3 linked regions of the Homo sapiens genome follow. The protein of the gene in region 2 interacts with the protein of the main gene of each other region in a biochemical or structural test. Each region holds a gene or a part of one and is shown on either strand. Other genes may lie near its edges.

Region 1 (7,000 bases), on a different chromosome or scaffold from region 2:
TGAGTGCAGTGGCACAATCTCAGCTCACTGTGACGTCTACCTCCTGGGTTCCAGCAATTCTCACACCTTAGCCACCCAAGCAACTGAGATTACAGGCGCGTGCCCCCATGCCCAGCTAATTTTTGTATTTTTAGTAGAGACAGGGTTTCACCATGTTGGCCAGGCTGGTCTCGAACTCCTGACCTCAGGTGATCCGTGCACCTCAACCTCCCCAAATGCTGGGATTACGGGCGTGAGCCACTGCTCCCAGTCCCACCCTTTGGATTTTATCACTTCACCAGAGTTAGTCACTGGGGGATTTTTTTGTGTGTGTCATCTATTGATTCAGTGAATTCTTTGCCAAATATTTATTCACAGCTAACTTTGTACTAGGCACTATGCTTAGGGCTGCATTCTGAGTAGTGAATGGGGTAGATATGGTCCCTGCTCTCACAGAGCCTATAGTCTAGAGGAGAAAGTAAACAATTAAGTAATTATAGTGAAAGTTGGTGCTTAAAGAACAACATACCATTGGATCAACTCCACAAGAACCTGGTTGATAAACCAGTTAGCAGTTTATTAACTTACACTGAGGGTACTAAGGTTGTTTGGTTAGAACACCCTGTCCTTTGGAGAGTGTTAGATAAACAAGCTTGTGCTTTTTGTGTTGCTTCCCTGTAGGTTTTGGTCCCTTGAAAAAAGTTCACTGTTGAGGTGCTGTGTTCCTTGGTCATACTGTGGTTCTGAGGCTGTACTCTTGTTATGTAGGCATGGCTTAGGTGATCCAAAATATCCCTTTGCAGCCCAGGTTATCTTTTAGAATGGGGTGGAGCCTGTGTTTGTTAGGGATTGCATTCAGCAACCAAACTACAAATGGCTTAAACAATAGGAATTTAGTTTTTCTCATGTAACAAGAAGTCCAGACCTGGACAGTTCAGGGCTTTGCTGTTTTCCTGCTCTGCCATTATTGGTATGTGGCTCTTCATAGTTACGATACTGCTGCCCCATATCTTCAGAAAAGAAGAAGGGGCAGCTTGTAGGGCAGAGTATAAAAGGTTAGTGTCGGCCAGGTCCAGTGGCTCACGCCTGTAATCCCAGCACTTTGGTAGGCTGGGGCGGGTGGATCATGTGAGGTCGGGAGTTCGAGATCAGCCTGACCAACATGGAGAAACCCCGTCTCTACTAAAAATACAAAATTAGCGGGGCGTGGTGGCACATGCCTGTAATCCCAGCTACTCGGGAGGCTGAGGCAGGAGAATCGCTTGAACCCGGGAGGCGGAGGCTGCCTTGAGCCGACATCGCGCCATTGCATTCCAGCCTGGGCAACAAGAGCGAAACTCCATCTCATAAAAAAAGGTTAGTGTCAGCTGAGTTTGAGTCCCCTCCTCTATTTTTTTTCCTTTTATTCTGAGAAAAATGCCTTTTCTTTTTCCTTTTTTTTTTTTTTTTTTTGAGAGGGAGTTTTTTTGTGGTAGAATTCTGGCCACTGAGATATAAGTAGAAGTTTACTGAGGAGGCCTTTAGAAAAAGTATTTCTCTCGACTGGGCACAGTGGCTTACGCCTGTAATCCCAGCACTTTGGGAGACTGAGGTGGGAGGATCACCTAAGGTCAGGAGTTCGAGACCAGCCTGGCCAACATGGCGAAACCCCATCTCTACTAAAAATACAAAAATTAGCTGGGTGTGGTGGCAGGCGCCTGTAATCCCAGCAAGCAATTCTCCCGCCTCAGCCTCCCGAGTAGCTGGGACTGCAGGCGCGTGCCACCACACCCGGCTAATTTTTGTATTTTTAGTAGAGACCAGGTTTCACCATGTTCGCCAGGCTGGTCTCGAACTTCTGACCTCAGGTGATCCGCCTACCTCGGCCTCTCAAAGTGCTGGGATTACAGGTGTGAACTACTGTGCCTGGCCTAATTTTTTGTATTTTTAGTAGAGACAGGATTTCTCCATGTTGGCCATGCTGGTCTTGAACTCCTGGCCTCAAGTGATCTGCCCACCTCAGCCACGCAAACTGCTGGGATTACAGGCGTAAGCCACTGTGCTCCGCCTAATGATTAACATTTTTATTGAGGAACTACTATGCATCAATTGTGTGCTAAGCACATTATGTACACTTGCATCTAATCTCCACAACATTCTCTTAAGGGAAATGGTCAGTAGGCAGTTGGAGATTTGGGAGTTTAAGACACTGCTTGTGAGGCAGTTACAAGTTACTTAACCTCTTTGAGTTTCAGTTTCTTAATTTGTAAAATGGAAATAATAATACATACTTCGTAGGTGTCTTATGAGCCTCAGACATCGTTTGTGTGAACTGCTTAGTTTATAATAAGCCCTCAACAAATAGTAACTCTAGCTATGGATGGTGGTGTTGAGAGGACAAAAATGGCAAGGACACAGGCTCCTTATTTTTATTTATTTATTTATTTGAGATGGAGTTTTGCCCTTGTTGCCCAGGCTGGAATGCAGTGGCGCGAACTTGGCTTGGGGCGATCTCAGCTCACCGCAAACTCTGGCTCCCGGGTTCAAGTGATTCTCCTGCCTCAGCCTCCCGAGTAGCTGGGATTACAGGCATGCGCCACCGCGCCTGGCTAATTTTGTATTTTTAGTAGAGATGGGGTTTCTCCATGTTGCTGGTCTGGAATTCCCGACCTCAGGTGATCCGCCTGCCTCGGCCTCCCAAAGTGCTGGGATTACAGGCTGGGATTACAGGCGTGCGCCACCGTGCCAGGCCTGTTTATTTATTTTTGAGGTGGAGTCTCATTCTGTCTCCCAGGCTGGAGTGCAGTGGCACGATCTTGGCTCACTGCAACCTCTGCCTCCTGAGTAGCTGGGTTTACAGGCGCCTGCCACCATGCCCGGCTAATTTTTGTATTTTTAGTAGAGACGGGTTTCACCATGTTGGCCAGGCTGGTCTGGAACTCCTGGCGTCACATGATCTGTCCGCCTCAGCCTCCCAGGGTGCTGGGATTACATGCATGAGCTACCACGCCCAGCTGACACAGTCTTCTGAATCTGCCAGTCCTGCCCTCCCTGATGCCTTCTGTGAGGTTTTGGAGAAAAATAGGAGCACAGACAGGCCCAGTGAAAGAGACTCTTAATTTCCATCTGGGGCTTTGGTTACAAACTTGGTGGTGTACTGCAGTCTGGTAAACTGTGGTTTATTAGAGTCAGAAGACTGGCCTGGGCAGGTCCAAGTAGCTACCTTTGTCCTTGGCCTCACTTCAGTTCTTTGCTGTGTTTGGCATAGGGGTAGAAGTAAGTCTGCGCATGGTGATGTGCCCCTATCATCCCAGCTACTGAGGAGGCTGAGGCGGGAGGTTCGCTTGAGCCCAGGAATTCAAAGCTACAGTGAGCTATAATCACATCACTGCACTCCAGTCTTGGTGACAGAGCAAAATCCTGTCTTTAAAAAAAGAAGGGTGTGGCCGGGCCAGGTGGCTCACACCTGTAATCCCAGCACTTTGGGAGGCTGAGGTGGTTAGATCACCTGAGGTCAGGAGTTTGAGACCAGCCTGGCCAACATGGTGAAACCGTCTCTACTAAAAATACAAAAAAATTAGCTGGGCGTAGTGGCAGATTCCTGTAATCCCAGCTATTCAGGAGACTGAGGCAGGAGAATTGCTTGAACCCGAGAGGCGGAGGTTGGAGTGAGCCGAGATCGTGCCACTGCACTCCAGCCTGGGCAACAGAGCGAGACTCCTTCTCAAAAAAAAAAAGTAAAATAAAATAAATAGTATACAATTCATTGGTTGGTTATTTACTATTGGGTAAAAAAATAAACAAACAAAAAGTATACAATTGGCTGGGCATGGTGGCTCATGGCCTGTAATCCCAGCACTTTGGGAGGCCGAGGCAGGTGGATCACCTAAGGTTAGGAGTTGGAGACCAGCCTGGCCAACATGGTGAAACCCCATCTCTACTAAAAATACAAAAAATTACCTGGGTGTGGTGGTGGGCACCTATAATCCTAGCTACTCGGGAGGCAGAAAGCAGGAGAATCACTTGAACCTGGGAGGCAGAGGTTGCTGTGAGCCAAGATCGTGCCACTGCACTCCAGCCTGGGTGACAGAACGAAACTCCATCTCAAAAAAAAAAAAAAAAAAAGTATACAATTTAGGGGTGGGTGTGGTGGCTGATACCTGTAATCCCAGCCCTCTGGGAGGCCGAGGTGGGAGGATCACTTGAGATCAGGAGTTTGAGACCAGCCTGGCTAATGTGGTGAAACCACATCTCTATTAAAAATACAAAAATTAGCCAGGTGTAGTGGTGCGTGTCTTTGATTCCAGCTACTAGGGAGGCTGAGGTAGGATAATTGCTTGAACCCCGGGAGGCAGAGGTAATAATGAGCCGAGAGTGTGCCACTGTACTCAAGTCTGAGTGACAGAGACACTCTGTCTCAAAAAAAAAAAAAAAAAAATACAATTCAGTGAGTGTTAGTATATTCACAGGGTTCTTCAACCCTCATGACTGATTCCAGAATGTTTTCACCACTCCAAAAAGAAACGCCTTATCCTTTCTTGGTTACTTCCCATTTGTGATTTAGGCCTGTGTACTGGTGAAGCCATCCTCCTGGTTGAGTTAATTGTTATGTATGGTGTGAGGTAAAGGTTCAACATCATTGTTTTGCATGTGGCTATCCAGTTGTCCCAGCACAATTTGTTGACAAGACTGTTCTTTCCCCATTGAATCTTCTTGACACCGTTGTTCAAAATCAGTTGACCAAAGATGTGTGAATTTCTTTCAGGGTCTCAATTCCATTCCCTTCATCTGAATGTCTATCTTTATGCTAGCACCACTCTGTCTTGGTGCTACCTTACTCTAGCAGGAACCTTTTTATAAACAAGATGAGGGTCCAGCTTTACCATTGGAGGATATAAAAGAATATGGACTTTTTTGCCTAAAGCAGTCCTGTTTTTCCTCTTCTTTTTTTTTCTTTTTGAGACGGAGATTCGCTCTTGTTGTCCAGACTGGACAGACTGGAGTACAATGCACAATCTCGGCTCACAGTAACCTCCGCCTCCCGGGTTCAAGCAATTGCCTCCTGAGTAGCTGGGATTACAGGCATGCACCACCATATCTGGCTAATTTTGTATTTTTAGTGGAGATGGGGTTTTGCCATGTTGGTCAGGCTGGTTTTGAACTCCTGACCTCAAGTGATCCACCCGCCTAGGCCTCCCAAAGTGTTGAGATTAGGCGTGAGCTACTGCGCCCGGCGTTTTTCCTCTTCTTGCTAATATTTTACCTTTAAAAAAATATGGCCAGTGAATATCATTGAACTCACCAACTTACAACAATATAGTTGTTATATTGCTGTTATTCCTAGATAGTGAGTTCTTGAAGACAGGGTTTATGAGTTTGTATTTATGCCTCGCACAGTGTTTATTACATGAATTGATTTTTTTTTTTTTTTTTTTTTGGAGACAGAGTCTCCCACTGTCGCCCAGGCTGGAGTGCAGTGGCGCCATCTCAGCTCACTGCAAGCTCCGCCTCCTGGGTTCATGCCATTCTCCTGCCTTAGCCTCCCTAGTAGCTGGGACTACAGGCGCCCACCACCACGCCTGGCTAATTTTTTGTATTTTTAGTAGAGACGGGGTTTCACCATGTTAGCCAGGATGGTCTCTATCTCCTGACCTCGTGATCCACCCACCTCGGCCTCCTAAAGTGCTGGGATTACAGGCGTGAGCCACTGCACCCAGCTGCATGAATTGATTTTTTAAAAGATTTTTAAAGTGGACTCATTCTGTTACATGGATCCTTAATAAATGTTTAAAAAAATTCTAATTATATCAGGAAAAGTTATAGGGTGGGTCATAGTGTAATCACATCATTGGGAAGAGTAGGGGACAAATAATGTAGATAAAATGAGGTTTTTAGAGGCAGACTGGGGTGAGAGTAAAATGTTTGGAATAGGAGTGAGGGAAAGAATTGTTTTTCTACTTTTTTTTGAGACAGGGTCTCGCTGTCTCTCAGGCTGGTGTGTAGTGGTGCAATCACAATCACAGCTCACTGCAGCCTCAACATCCTGGGCCCAAGTGATGCTCTTATCATAGCCTCCCAAGTAATTGGAACTACAGGTGTGTGCTGCCATGCCTGGCTAATTTTCTTTTTCTTTTCTTTTTTTTTTTGAGACAGGGTGTGGTTGTGTCACCCAGACTGGAGTGCAGTGGTGCGATCTCGGCTCATTGCAATCTCAGCCCCCGGGCTCAAGCAATCCTCCCATCTCTTCCTCTCCAGTAGCTGGGATTACCTGGCTAATTTAAAAAAATTGTACTGGCCAGGTGCAGTGGCTCACACCTGTAATCCCAGCACTTTAGGAGGCCGAGTTTAGGAGTTTAGGAATTAGAGACCAGCCTGGCCAACATGGTGAAACCCCATTTTTACTGAAAATACAAAAATTAGCTGGGCATGGTGGCATGTGCCTGTAATCCCAGCTACTAGGGAGACTGAGGCAGGAGAATCGCTGGAACCTGGGAGGCAGAGGTTGCAGTAAGCCGAGATCACCCCGCTGCACTCCAGCCTGGGTGACAGAGTAAGACTCCATCTCAAAAAAAAAAAATTGTTTGTAGAGATGGGATCTCACTATGTTGCCCTGGTTGGTCTCCAACTCCTGGGCTCAAGCAGTTCTCCTGCCTCAGCCTCCCAAAGTGCTGGGATTACAGGCATGAGTCACTGCACCTGGCTGAAAATTGCTTTTCTAGATATGTCCCCTGTTATTATGAAAACAGCAAGCAAATATTCTCAATTTATGGGATAGTCTCCATTTCAAATATTCTCATCCACTGTAGATCTCGTGCTTAGATTCTTGGTTCCAAAATCATCATCTCTGCCCCTGTTGTTTACCAGGGAGTGTTTGCCATTGTGGAGATGGGGGACGTGGGTGCTCGAGAGGCTGTCTTGTCACAGTCCCAGCACAGCCTGGGAGGACATCGCCTGCGTGTCCGCCCACGGGAGCAGAAGGAGTTCCAGAGCCCGGCCTCCAAATCCCCCAAAGGAGCGGCCCCCGACAGTCACCAGCTGGCCA
Region 2 (7,562 bases):
GTGAGACTCTGTCTCAAATAAATAAAAACAAATCAATTTAGTTCTATTAGCATGTAGTGAGAGTCCACTATAGGGCAGACTGATATCAAATTTCATGGTATAGTCAGCTTTCTAGTACACTTTATGTACTTCTTAAAAAGAGGATAGGCCAGGCACGTGGCTCATGCCTTTAATCCCAGCACTTTGGGAGGCTGAGGCGGGCAGATCGCCAGAGGTCGGGAGTTTGAGACCAGCCTGGCCAGCATGGTGAAACCCTGTCTCTACTAAAAATACAAAATTTAGCCAGGCATGTTGACAGGTGCCTGTAATCCCAGCTACTCAAGAAGCTGAGGCAGGAGAATCGCTTGAACCCGGGAGGCAGAGGTTGCAGTGAGCCCAGATCATGCCATTGCACTCCAGCCTGGGCAACAGAGTGAGACTCCATCTCCAAAAAAAAAAAGGATATAAAGTAGGAACCTAGATTAATTAATTTGTAGACCTTATGCCCATGCTAAAATTAAACTTTCTAGATCCTATAGGACAGAAAATATAATTTTGTTTGCTCTAATTTTTTTAAATTTAGACCTTTAATTGGGATAGACAGCTCAACAGTCCCACAACTCCTTATTATCCCCAACAGATTTCCTTCACCCATTTACATTAGCTGTATCTAACCCCTGCAAGTATTTGAGTTTCAGCCTCCGAAATCTAATCACTTTATTTTATAATAAGAAAACGAATGGTCACAGAGAATAAATAACTTAGCCAAGGTTACCAGCTAGCAAGTGGCACTGAGCCAGAGTCAAAATCCAAGTATAGTGGCTCTTTGTAAAAGGCAGTGTTTTCATCTTACTATATTTTCATTCTCTTTTTCAGAACCTAACATTTGTCTGAAATAAGGACCCTCCGTAATTTTTTTTAGCTTTCAAAAGTGCCTCGTGGCACTTACAATTTTTATTCATATCCCAAGTTTCAAAATATCATTAACAGATTAAGCACTTTACTACATGCTATTTTGGTGTTTGCACTACTCCCCCGCCTTTCCACTGCCTTTTAGCTGCTCTGAGAGCTGGTAAAGAGAGACGAGAATTATACAATTACATAAGATAAAAGAATGAAAGGTTTAGAGAGGTGAGTAAGAATGAGGGGGTGGTAGGGTCGTGGGCGGGAATAACTGTAGAGGAAGGACAAGGAGAAGGAAAAACTGAGACAGTGGTTCCTGAATATCAAAGACAGGAAGAGTTGAGAAATAAAGACAGCCAGTCATCAAACACTGTTCTTTTATGGGATGTGCTGATTCTGTGTGTGTGTATGTACATGTGTATATATATATACATATATATGTGTGTGTGTGTGTGTGTGTGTGTGTGTGTGTGTGTGTGATTTGCTAAGTCCACTCAAATTTTAGGCAGATTTTTCCCTTAGGCTCATGTAGCCAGTCCCACAAAAAATTATGAAATAGGCAAAACTTATCTTGAAATTCTCCTTTGTACTTTCTTCCATTAAACTGTATTACAAAATGCAGTGCTTTTTTTCTCTGGTTCACCCCAGGCTGAAAACTGGCTCTCTTTGACACTTTAGTTTTAAACCTAACTCTCTCCTGGAGTATTTACATTTGAAGTCCCATCTCTTAATTGTTGAGTAAAAGAACCTCTCTTAAAGGAATTGTTTAAATATCAGTAAGCAGAGAGGTTTGGAATTACTAGAGGGTAAAGGAATCCTTCCTAGAGAATCTCTAATTTCACAACCAACTGTGACTTTAAGAGGTCCAGCTTGTTCATATCTAGCCTAAGTACTCAGCATACTCAGCTCTCTAGGTTACGTTTTAAATTGACAAAAAAGGTACAGAGAGTCTGAGAAGGCAATAACAATCACCAAGCAAACTGGTACATTCATCAAAAGTTAACTAAGGAATGCATCAGTGAAGACATTCATTCTAAATAAGCAGATATAATCCCTGATTTATATTCAATTATTGGTGATTAAGGTGAAGTAGCTTTTCTCATCAATTTATCTACTTAATTATTCAGTAGGGATGTGGACTTTAACCAATTTATGAACAATATCTTATTTCTCTTCATAATTGAGAGAAGCACCAGTAAAATAAGCAGAATTTCCATAAACTGATCAACTGAGATCACTAAAACGTTGATTGCTGTAAACAAAATAATAAAGGTCAATAGAAAAATTGAAGTTTACCCAAACTTTCCAGATTCTGCAGCCAGACTGCCTGGTTTCAATTTAGGTTCTGCCACTTACTTGCCTCAATTCCTTATCTATAGACTTGAAATAATAATAGTACCAAAATCATGTGATTGCTGTGAGAATTAAGTTAGTATTTTAAAGTGTTTAGAACCATGCTAGGCACTCTGTAAGTGCTTGCTAAATAAAATACTATAATTTTATCTCTTTCCTGACTCTGATGGCAGTTACTTAGGTCTACAAAACGGCTCCATAAATCTGATGTATAATTCAAATTGGCATTGAATTTACACGTCTATATCCAGTTAACCTGCTGCCTTGAGCATGGTGCAAGTGAAGAAAATATTATTTTACTTCATTGTATGGTTGTAGCTGTCAACACTTCAAAAATGCATTTTCTCTTAAGGGAAAGTGGACATTAGGGTATAAATGATTTATTGCTACTTGGTTATGTTATGTTTATACAATGAAGGAGAGCACAGTTTTGCCTTCAAAGCCCCTAACACCTTTTTTCAATAGCTTTATTGAGGTATAATTCACATACTGTACAATTCACCCTGTCATCAATAAACAATACTAGTGTTTATTGAATGGCTATTACGTCCCAGGCAATAAACACAAATTGTTTCATTTAATCTTCATAAAAATCCCTTAAGGTAGGTATTATTATACTCAATTTTATGATTCAATTAAAGGGCAAGAACTTTGCAGCTAAAGGTTGAAGTGAGGTTTGAACTTACATCCATGTAGCTCCAATATATGTTTTCCATATTCTGCAGCTTCCCTTCAGAAAATTACTTTGTTCTCTTTCAGAGAGTGACTGGAAAAAGGGGGAAAATGTGACTTTTAGAGGGTAGCCGTGGTTAGAGAAACTCTTAATCTTTTAACCTGTCAGGAGAAAAGCCAGAAATAGCAGTCACTGAAAGTTGTTTTAAAACTCTCAATTCAAGGTTGGCATGATAATGCAAAATAGTATTATTACGCAGAAATAAGCAATCATAATCATAATACTGATATACACAAATCATAATGCCAATATACACTACTTTCACTTGGATTCAGCACTTCCTACTAGCATAACTACACCTACCTTTATCGCATTCTCACCAAATGAGTTAGGGTTTAAAATGGGCAAACGAGAAATGATGTGGGGATTCCGGCCCATCTTTTAGACTTTTCACATCAATATGGTATGTTAAAATCACACCCCTGGACATCATGCTCGGGAATACTTAAGTAATTTTGCCACAATTCATTTACTAAACAAATATTTAGGTAATTTTTACATGTCCATCAGTACTGTGCTAACCACCAGGTGTACAAAGGCTAAAACAAAAGATGAACCCAGTTCCAGCTCTTAAAGAGTTTACATTTTAGTTCAGGCTTTCAGAAGGAGAGGCAGTGAGTGTGCTATACTGTATAGCATGTGGGCTCTTGAACCAGCCTCTCCACTCACCTCTCCACCTGCTGTGTGACCTTGGCATTTGATTTTTAAGCGACTCGATTTTCTATTTTGTAACATAATCGTTGACTTCAAATTAAAGACATATCTAGTTTCATTTCAGGTGTACGGCACCATACGAAGATGGGGCTAAGAAAATGTTACTATCCTGTATAAACAAGAGGGTTTCTCGCACGTTTTCTTCCTTTAGTATCTGGCATTATTCAATACTGTCCATATTCTACTCCCTGTTCACCGATGAACTGGGACATGTTTTTCACTGCAGCTTAGTCGTCTGGGTGTGCCTGGGGAGGCGTCACAAAGAGCCTATAAAGGGTCCCCACCTACAACGGGAGTAAGAGCGCTGGAAGGAACCCAGGAAGGGCATGGAGACCAAGCGTTCGGTTTCGGAGTGTTTTTTGTGTGTGCCCATATTCACCGAGCTTGGGTTCTCCCACTCGTAACGAAAAGCCCAGTCACTGAGCTGCTACATTTTCTGCCATATCTTAGCCGTCCCCACGCCCCCACACCACCGCCCCACCCTACCTCACCCTCAAGCGTGAGTGAATGCGCAAATAAGGGTTTTCAAGGCGTCAGTGGGAAAGAGGGAGGGGAAGGCAACGCTGAGGACGGGAGGACAGGGCGGTGGCATCCCTCTAGCGAGAGAGAGCCAGAGCCCTCGGCGGCGAGGAAAGCTAAAACCCGGCAGTCCCGGGCCAGAGGAGGCCAAGGCAAGATGCTGGACGGGCGGGGACCGATGGGGGGCAGCAGACCATGGCCGCGCACCCAGTGCGCCCCCGGGGCCTCCTCTTGTCCCGAGGAGCACCCCCGCTCCCGGTGTCTTTTGGTTTCGACCGGCCGACTGGGAGGGGCCGTGGGACGCCATTCCCATAATGCTCTGGGGCGTGCCGCCGCCGTCGCTGCCACCTCCCCTACCGCTAGTGGAAGAAGATGGCGGAAGGCGGAGCGGCGGATCTGGACACCCAGCGGTCTGACATCGCGACGCTGCTCAAAACCTCGCTCCGGAAAGGGGACACCTGGTAAGAGAAAGGGGTTGAGATGCCCGCGGTTGCCCGAGGATAGTGGAGAAGTGGGCGGGAGCCGCGAGCTGGTTCTTTCGCTAGTGACAGGTGCGGGCAGGTCCGGCGGCGGCCGCCGGGGCAGCGGGATTTTGGCCGCTTCTGAAATGTTGGGGCAAAGGTTGGACTCTAGATGAGGGTCAGGGTTCTTGGCTTGCCAGGGCATGCTGAAAGGTATCCGGGGAGCGGCGGCGGCGGCGGTTCTGACTCGTGCGGTTCTCTTCGTCCTCCTTCCTTCCGTAGTGCCGCTCCCACCTCAGGCCTTCCCGAATGATAGGTTATAGTGGTTTGGTTTGAGTCTTATATACGCCGTTTTGACAGGTCCCGGTGCCGCGGCTTATCACGATCTCACCGGCTTTACTTCTCTGTTCATTTCCTTTCCTAGAATTGTCGGCGTCCAAGTTCCCTTTTATTCTGATTCTTGGTCTTCCGGGAGGCAGGCTGCAGGATGTTTGCGGTCTGTACTACACAGGTGGCATGTCAGGGCTCCACATAAGAGAAAGAAACCCTAGTTTCCAGTTCCTTGTCAAAGGAGGGAGAGGAGTAGGGAACCTTGGGCTTATGAGAGACCACGTGGTCTTGTGCTTTAGTGGTGGCTTGATAGAAGCCGGCAGCGTTTCTGTTAGACGTGCAGCCCTTCCCTTCTGTTTGAAAGATAATGTAGGCCTGCAAAAAGTAGATAAGTCCACTTGAGGCTTAACTAACTGCTAATATTCAAACTTGTAAAATACCAAAGGTTATACATTTAAAATACTGAAGGATGTATGTGGACATTTTCACACTTGTCGACCATATCAAGTGGCATCTACAATAACTTAAATATGTGAATATGTAACATAATTTAAAATTCCTTATTTTTTGGGAAGCATAATGTGCCTCTTCATTATAATAAAACATATTTTCACTTTCCACTGTTACCATAACAGTAGTATATAATTCATAGAGTGTTTCAGTATGGCATAGTGAAAGGAACAGTAAGATTTAGACCTGAGTTATGTCACAGTTTCACCACTCAACTTGCAGTATGGCTTTGAGGAGAGTTAATTTAAATCATTGCACCTCATTATCTTCATGCTGTAAAATGGACAGTAATTTTATTATAAGGATTTTATCTTGATTCGTTTTAATATCTTAAGAATTTCATATTTATGAGATATCAAATTTTAGTTATCCTCTTATCTCTGCTCTTTACTCCTGACAAAAGGCTGTGATATTGGGATCATTTTCAGTTAAGCTAATAGGTGGCAGACTTAGGACCTTAATTTAACCTTGATCTAAGTCTTAGTCTCTTTTTTCTTTTTTGGTAGGCTATATACTATGTTTGTATGATAGAAATCCCTAAGGATGTAAATACATACTTGTTTCATTATATCAAAAAAATAGAATCTTCAAGTGACTTAATAATAGTTATTGTTGGCCTGGCAGGGTGGTTCACGCCTGTAACCCAGCACTTTGGGAGGCCGAGGAGGGAGGATCACTTGAACTCAGGAGTTCCAGACCAGCCTGGGCACCATGGTGAAACCCCGTCTCTACAAAAATACAAAAAAATTAGCTGGGCATGGTGGCACGCCTGTGGTCCCAGCTACTCAGGAGGCTGAGGTGGGAGGATTGCCTGAGCCTAGGAAGCGGAGGTTGCAGTGAGCCGAGATCCGGCCACTGCACTCTAGCCTGGGCAACGTGAGACTCCATCTCAAAAAAAGAAAAAAAAAAGTTATTGTTTTTATTATAATGTTAGATGTTTATTACTGTGGGGAAATTGGACATTTCCTAGGACACCCATGTTTACCTTGGCTTGTGGTAATGACAAATAAGTCCCCGCTGGCTATTGTAAGTTAAAGAACATTTAAAAATTCTTAATTCACCCAACCTAGTACCACCTTATTTTAAAAAGTGAATTTCCTTAAAATAGAAATCTGTAAGTCTATAAGTTAAAATATAAGTGTTATTGTCTCTCATTAATGTCACGTTTTTGTATATAGAGTAATTGGTAGCATTGACACTACAGGATGATAGGAGCAATATGTGCATTGTGGGCGTTTAACTTTATGAAGTTTGGTATTTTCAAATAAGTATATTTTTGCTTTTTTACAAAATTAATGTAAATTGTTTTATATATGTGCGTGTGTGTGTGCGTGTATAGCTGTATAGGTACAGTGTCTCACTATATTGCCCATGCTGATCTTGAACTCCTGGCTTCAAGTGATCCACCTCAGCCTCCCAAAATGCTAGTATTACAAGTATGAACCATGACTAAATACAAGAGGCTCATAAATTTAAGTCATTTCAGTGCTTTTATTTTAAATAAAAGTAAACTGAGGGCCACATATTTAGATAAAAGCAGATTGTGCAAGTTTATCCTCACGTTAATTTTCTCTTAAAGGAAAAAAACTGCAAGAGAAAGATGGTACTGGGAGTTGCAGAAACCAGTTTGGTTTATTTGTGAGCCAGTTTATTTGCAAATTAGCAAGTGAAACCTGTCCAAAAACAAAGTAGTAGAGAGCAAAAATTTGATTCAGAATTTTAAAGAGAATAATTTGATAAGTATAAATTTGATGATGAACTTACAGGTACAGAACTGGTGGTGATATGTAATAATTTAGTTTATGTTTTTGGAACTCACTAGAAAGTTGTTTTTCCTTTTAATATCTTTTTTTAATCTTTGAATCAGGTTATTTGAAATTTGCCCTGTGGAATATTGTCGTGGCATATGTATGTAACTGTCTAGGAAAGACTGATTGGGCTGTTGAGAAAAAATGGTGGGTTTACCATAAGTTTATTCTTGAAAGTTTAATACACATGTCTGAAGTTATAGTCATATGCATCACAGTGAATAAATTTCATTTACTAGCTTTTGAGCACTT
Region 3 (4,193 bases), on a different chromosome or scaffold from region 2:
TGTCTTCCCTTTGCTTGGCCACCCTTACAGCCTCTTGGATGGTGTATCCTACAGTGTAAGCACTAAACTGAAGAGGCAGTGACCTGAGCACTTTGGATTTTGTTCATTGTAATCAATTCCATGACAAAATGATTGCATGAGAAGGAATTTTAAATTCATAGGATCAGAATTTAGGTGAAAACAACCAGCATATTTGTTTCTTCACCCTCTCACCTAGAATTAGCTTTGACCTACAGGTCACAGTGCAATCCCCTTGTATTTCTAAGGTGTTTTTTATAGTTCATTTGCAGACAATGGGTTATGTGATAACTTTTATCAGTGATAGATTAAACAGAATAATGACCAAGCTTTCAACCTTAAGGAGTCAGGCCAGTATTTACAAAAGGAGGTCTCCATGAACTCCTTAAATATGAGTTCCCCTAATATCATCTTGCCAGGTACTAAATAACAACTGATAGCACAAGCTATAGGGAATTTGAAAGAATTCCATGGATGGGTGTTGTCTAGGGCCTTTTGTTGTTTTTGAGACGGGGTCTGACTCTCACCCAGGCTGGAGTATAGTGTGGCGCAATCTTGGCTCACTGCAACTTCTGCCTCCCAGATTCAAGCGATTCTCCTGCCTCAGCCTCCCAAGTAGCTGAGACTACAGGTGTGCACCACCATGCTCAGCTAATTTTTGTATTTTTAGTACAGATGGGGTTTCACCATGTTGGCCAGGCTGGTCTTGAACTCCTGATCTCCCAAAGTGAGGTCTTGAACTGGTCTTGAACTCCTCCACCTCCCAAAGTGCTGGGATTACAGGCGTGAGCCACTGCACCCGGCCTAGGGCCATGTAAAAAGCCAGATCTGTGCTGCTGTCTGTGTAGAAGGGTAGACAAGTGGATGAGAAGTTCCTGAACTATTCTTGGCCCTTTTACCACTAAGTGAAAGTAACTTGCTGCCCCAAAGAAAGATGTCTCATCATTCGACAGGACTTTCTAGTTGAACTTCATGAAAGCAAGAGATCCTGTTTTTCTTGCTCACCACTGTATCTTGAGACCTGTTGTAGTGCCTGCAATACTTATTTAATAAGTTATTTTTAAGTATCAGTTTTGTGAGCTTTAACTCTATGAGGTCTTTGTTGTTTGACTGTATTTTAACTCTGGCCATGACAGCAAGACAAAGTTCCATTTTTATTGAGCTTAAAAAGAATCAAGGCCAGGTGAAGTGGCTTACGCCTGTGATCCCAACACTTTGTGAGGCTGCAGCAGGAGGATCTCTTGAGCCCAGGAGTTTGAGACCGTTCTAGGCAATGTAGTGAGGTCCAGACTCCACAAAATAATTTTTTTTTAAATTGCACGCCTGTAGTCTCAGCTATCAGGAGGCTGAGATGGGAGGATGACTTGAGCCCAGGAAATTGAAGCTGCAGTGAATTGTGATTGCACCACTGCACTCCAGCCTGGGTGACAGATCAAGACCTTGCCTAAACAAAACAAAACAAACAAAACCCCAAAAAACAAATTGAAAATGTTGATTCTTTTTACTACAAACATTATGGCAGCACTAAAAACTTCGTGGGAGTGTACTGTGGAAAATAGTGTACTTAATTAATTCTCATTGTAATCAGGCTACCAAGAGCCTTGTGTTGCTTTAAGAGTTATAACTGCCAGGCACAGTGGCTCATGCCTATAATCCCAGCACCTTGAGAGGCCGAGGCAGGTGGATCACCTGAGATCGGGAGTTTGAGACCAGCCGGGCCAATATGGTGAAACAAGCTGTGTCTCTACTAAATACAAAAAATTAGCCGGGCGTGGTGGCACATGCCTGTAATCCCAGCTGCTTGGGAGACTGAGACAGGAGAATTGCTTGAACCTGGAAGGCGGAGGTTGCAGTGAGCTGAGATTGCAACATTGTACTCCAGCCTGGGCAACAAGAGGGAAACTCCATCTCAAAAAAAAAAAAAAAGTTGTAACTGAGGCTGGGCATGGTGGCTCATACCTGTAATCCCAGCACTTTGAAAAGCCGAGGCAGGTAGATCACTTGAGCTCAGAAGTTCGAGACTAGCCTGGGCAACATGACAAAACCCCATCTCTACAAAAAATACGAAAAATTAGCTGGGCGTGGTGGCATGCACCTGTAGTCCTAGCTACCTGGGAGGCTGAGGTGGGAAGATTACTTGAAGCTGCAGTGAGCCATGGTTGTGCCACTGCCCTCCAGTCTGGGCAACAAAGTGAGACCCTGTCTCAAAAAAACAAAAAAAAATTATAACTGATGTAAACTGGCAGTTTAGGCTGGGTGTGGTGGCTCAAGCCTGTAATCCTAGCACTTTGGGAGGCCAAGGCAGGTGGATCACCTGAGTTCAGGAGTTCGAGACCAGCGTGGCCAACATGGTGAAACCTTGTCTCTATTAAAAATACCAAAATTAGCAAGATGTGGTGGTGGGTGCCTATAATTCCAGCTACTCAGGAGGCTGAGGCAGGAGGATCGCTGGAGCCAGGGAGGCAGAGGTTACAGTAAGCAAAGATCACTCCACTTCACTCCAGCCTGGGCAAAAGAGTGAGACATATCAAAAAATAAACAAATAAATAAATAAATAAGTGGCAGTTCATCATTTAACTCCAAAGACTTTGCGTACATTTCTACTGAAAACAATCTGAGCTGATTAGAACCCTGCCATTTTATAGCCTTTAGCTCGATCTCCGACCGTTCATTTAAAAAAATTCTACTTCAGGCCGGGCATGGTGGCTCAAGCCTGTAATCCCATCACTGTAGGAGGCCAAAGTGGGCAGATCACTTAAGGTCAGGAGTTTGAGACCAGCCTGGCCACCATGGTGAAACCCCATCTCTACTAAAAATACAAAAATTAGCCGGGCTTGGTGGTGAGCACCTGTAATCCCACCCTGCCGAGTGGCAGGCTGAGGCAGGAGAATCGCTTGAGCCCAAGAGCCGGAGGTTGCAGTGAGCCAAGCTTGCACCATTGCACTCCAGCCTAGGCAACAGAGTGTGACTCCATCTCAAGAAAAAAAAAATTCTATTTCATTTTACAATATGCAGATATATGTCCATACACATGCATAATATAAATGTATACCATATTTGTGAGAATATGCATATATGTACACATTAGATACACAATACAAGCACAATACATATGTCTTTTGCCCAAGATACAGCATTTTGTAAAGGAGACAGGAATTTAGTAATATATGTTCCAGAAACAGTACACAAGAGAATTCGCCGAGATGAGAAAGTTGTCACTAGGAATGGGGAGTGGTAAGATGTAGAAGGTATAATTGTTCTTAAAGTTCTACTGCCAACTCTTTCCAATTAATTACCCACTCTGCCATGCTTTATGGACAGGAGGTTGTCGGACACTGTCAATTAATAAATATTTGAGCATGATACACTGCTTGGAGCTCCTCTAATATAGGAGAGTGATATCCTAGTGCATGTTACAGAGGGAGTGTCCACACAGTTCCTATTGTCATTTGATGAGTTACTTTTCAGGGGCCTTGTACCTGAGCAAGTTGTCCTCTTTTTGATGGATTTCAGATTGAGTTACCTGCATTGTCTTGAGATTGCAGCGTGTTTCCTCCACTGTACGGCGTAGTCAGCAGATCTATTAGTTAAACTCCAGTGGGCCCTCAGTCACTAAATCTATCCTCTGTGTTGAAGGCTTTCTGCATTTGCCTTTCAATAAAGGTTTAGAATAACTCCTTCTCTGTGACTCTGTTTTACTCCTCTATTGACAGTAAATTGAATCAGCATTTAAGATGTGAAAAAATTAATAATCAAATGAAATGGGGGTCAAATAGGCACTAGTTTGGTGTGTTGGGGAAAGCATATGAATGAGGGGTGGTCAAGTGAATGGTCAAGTCTCCTTTATGACCCTCCTTTTATAGCTAAAGGTTGTCACTGGCAGCACCAAAAGGAAGGGGACTCCTGGGCCCATTGCTATGTATCCCAGTTTATTCTCAAATGATTTTGTGAGCTGTTTTGGTAACTGTTTAAATAAGGCTACAGAATGAAATGTAGTATCACATTGTGGGAGGAGAGGGAAAAGGATTCCTTTTTTCGTTTTTTGGAAGAAGTGAACACTTGCCTGGACTCTGGGAAGGAACCTGTGATCTAATTAGCTAAATTTAGAGAGACAGTACAGTAAGAGAATGCACTTTTCCAGAGCTTCCTTTGCAAGAGAGGATCCATCTCTTCAA

What was found.
Region 1: of the proteins of USP15 (region 2) and TUT1, one has a biochemical effect on the other in vitro, tested with the Homo sapiens proteins (one study listed by BioGRID).
Region 3: of the proteins of USP15 (region 2) and GLUL, one has a biochemical effect on the other in vitro, tested with the Homo sapiens proteins (one study listed by BioGRID).

What each region holds. Positions count from the first base shown.
Region 1 is NC_000011.10:62,581,524-62,588,523, reverse strand, and holds part of TUT1 (speckle targeted PIP5K1A-regulated poly(A) polymerase), read left to right. Parts: intron 1-6,822; coding exon 6,823-7,000. UniProt on the Homo sapiens protein: Poly(A) polymerase that creates the 3'-poly(A) tail of specific pre-mRNAs. Localizes to nuclear speckles together with PIP5K1A and mediates polyadenylation of a select set of mRNAs, such as HMOX1.
Region 2 is NC_000012.12:62,255,842-62,263,403, forward strand, and holds the start of USP15 (ubiquitin carboxyl-terminal hydrolase 15), read left to right. Parts: upstream 1-4,562; 5' UTR 4,563-4,573; coding exon 4,574-4,662; intron 4,663-7,562. Other genes in the region: TAFA2 (chemokine-like protein TAFA-2), read right to left, coding at 2,922-3,001, 3,638-3,703. UniProt on the Homo sapiens protein: Hydrolase that removes conjugated ubiquitin from target proteins and regulates various pathways such as the TGF-beta receptor signaling, NF-kappa-B and RNF41/NRDP1-PRKN pathways.
Region 3 is NC_000001.11:182,377,598-182,381,790, reverse strand, and holds the end of GLUL (glutamine synthetase), read left to right. Parts: 3' UTR 1-3,693; downstream 3,694-4,193. UniProt on the Homo sapiens protein: Glutamine synthetase that catalyzes the ATP-dependent conversion of glutamate and ammonia to glutamine.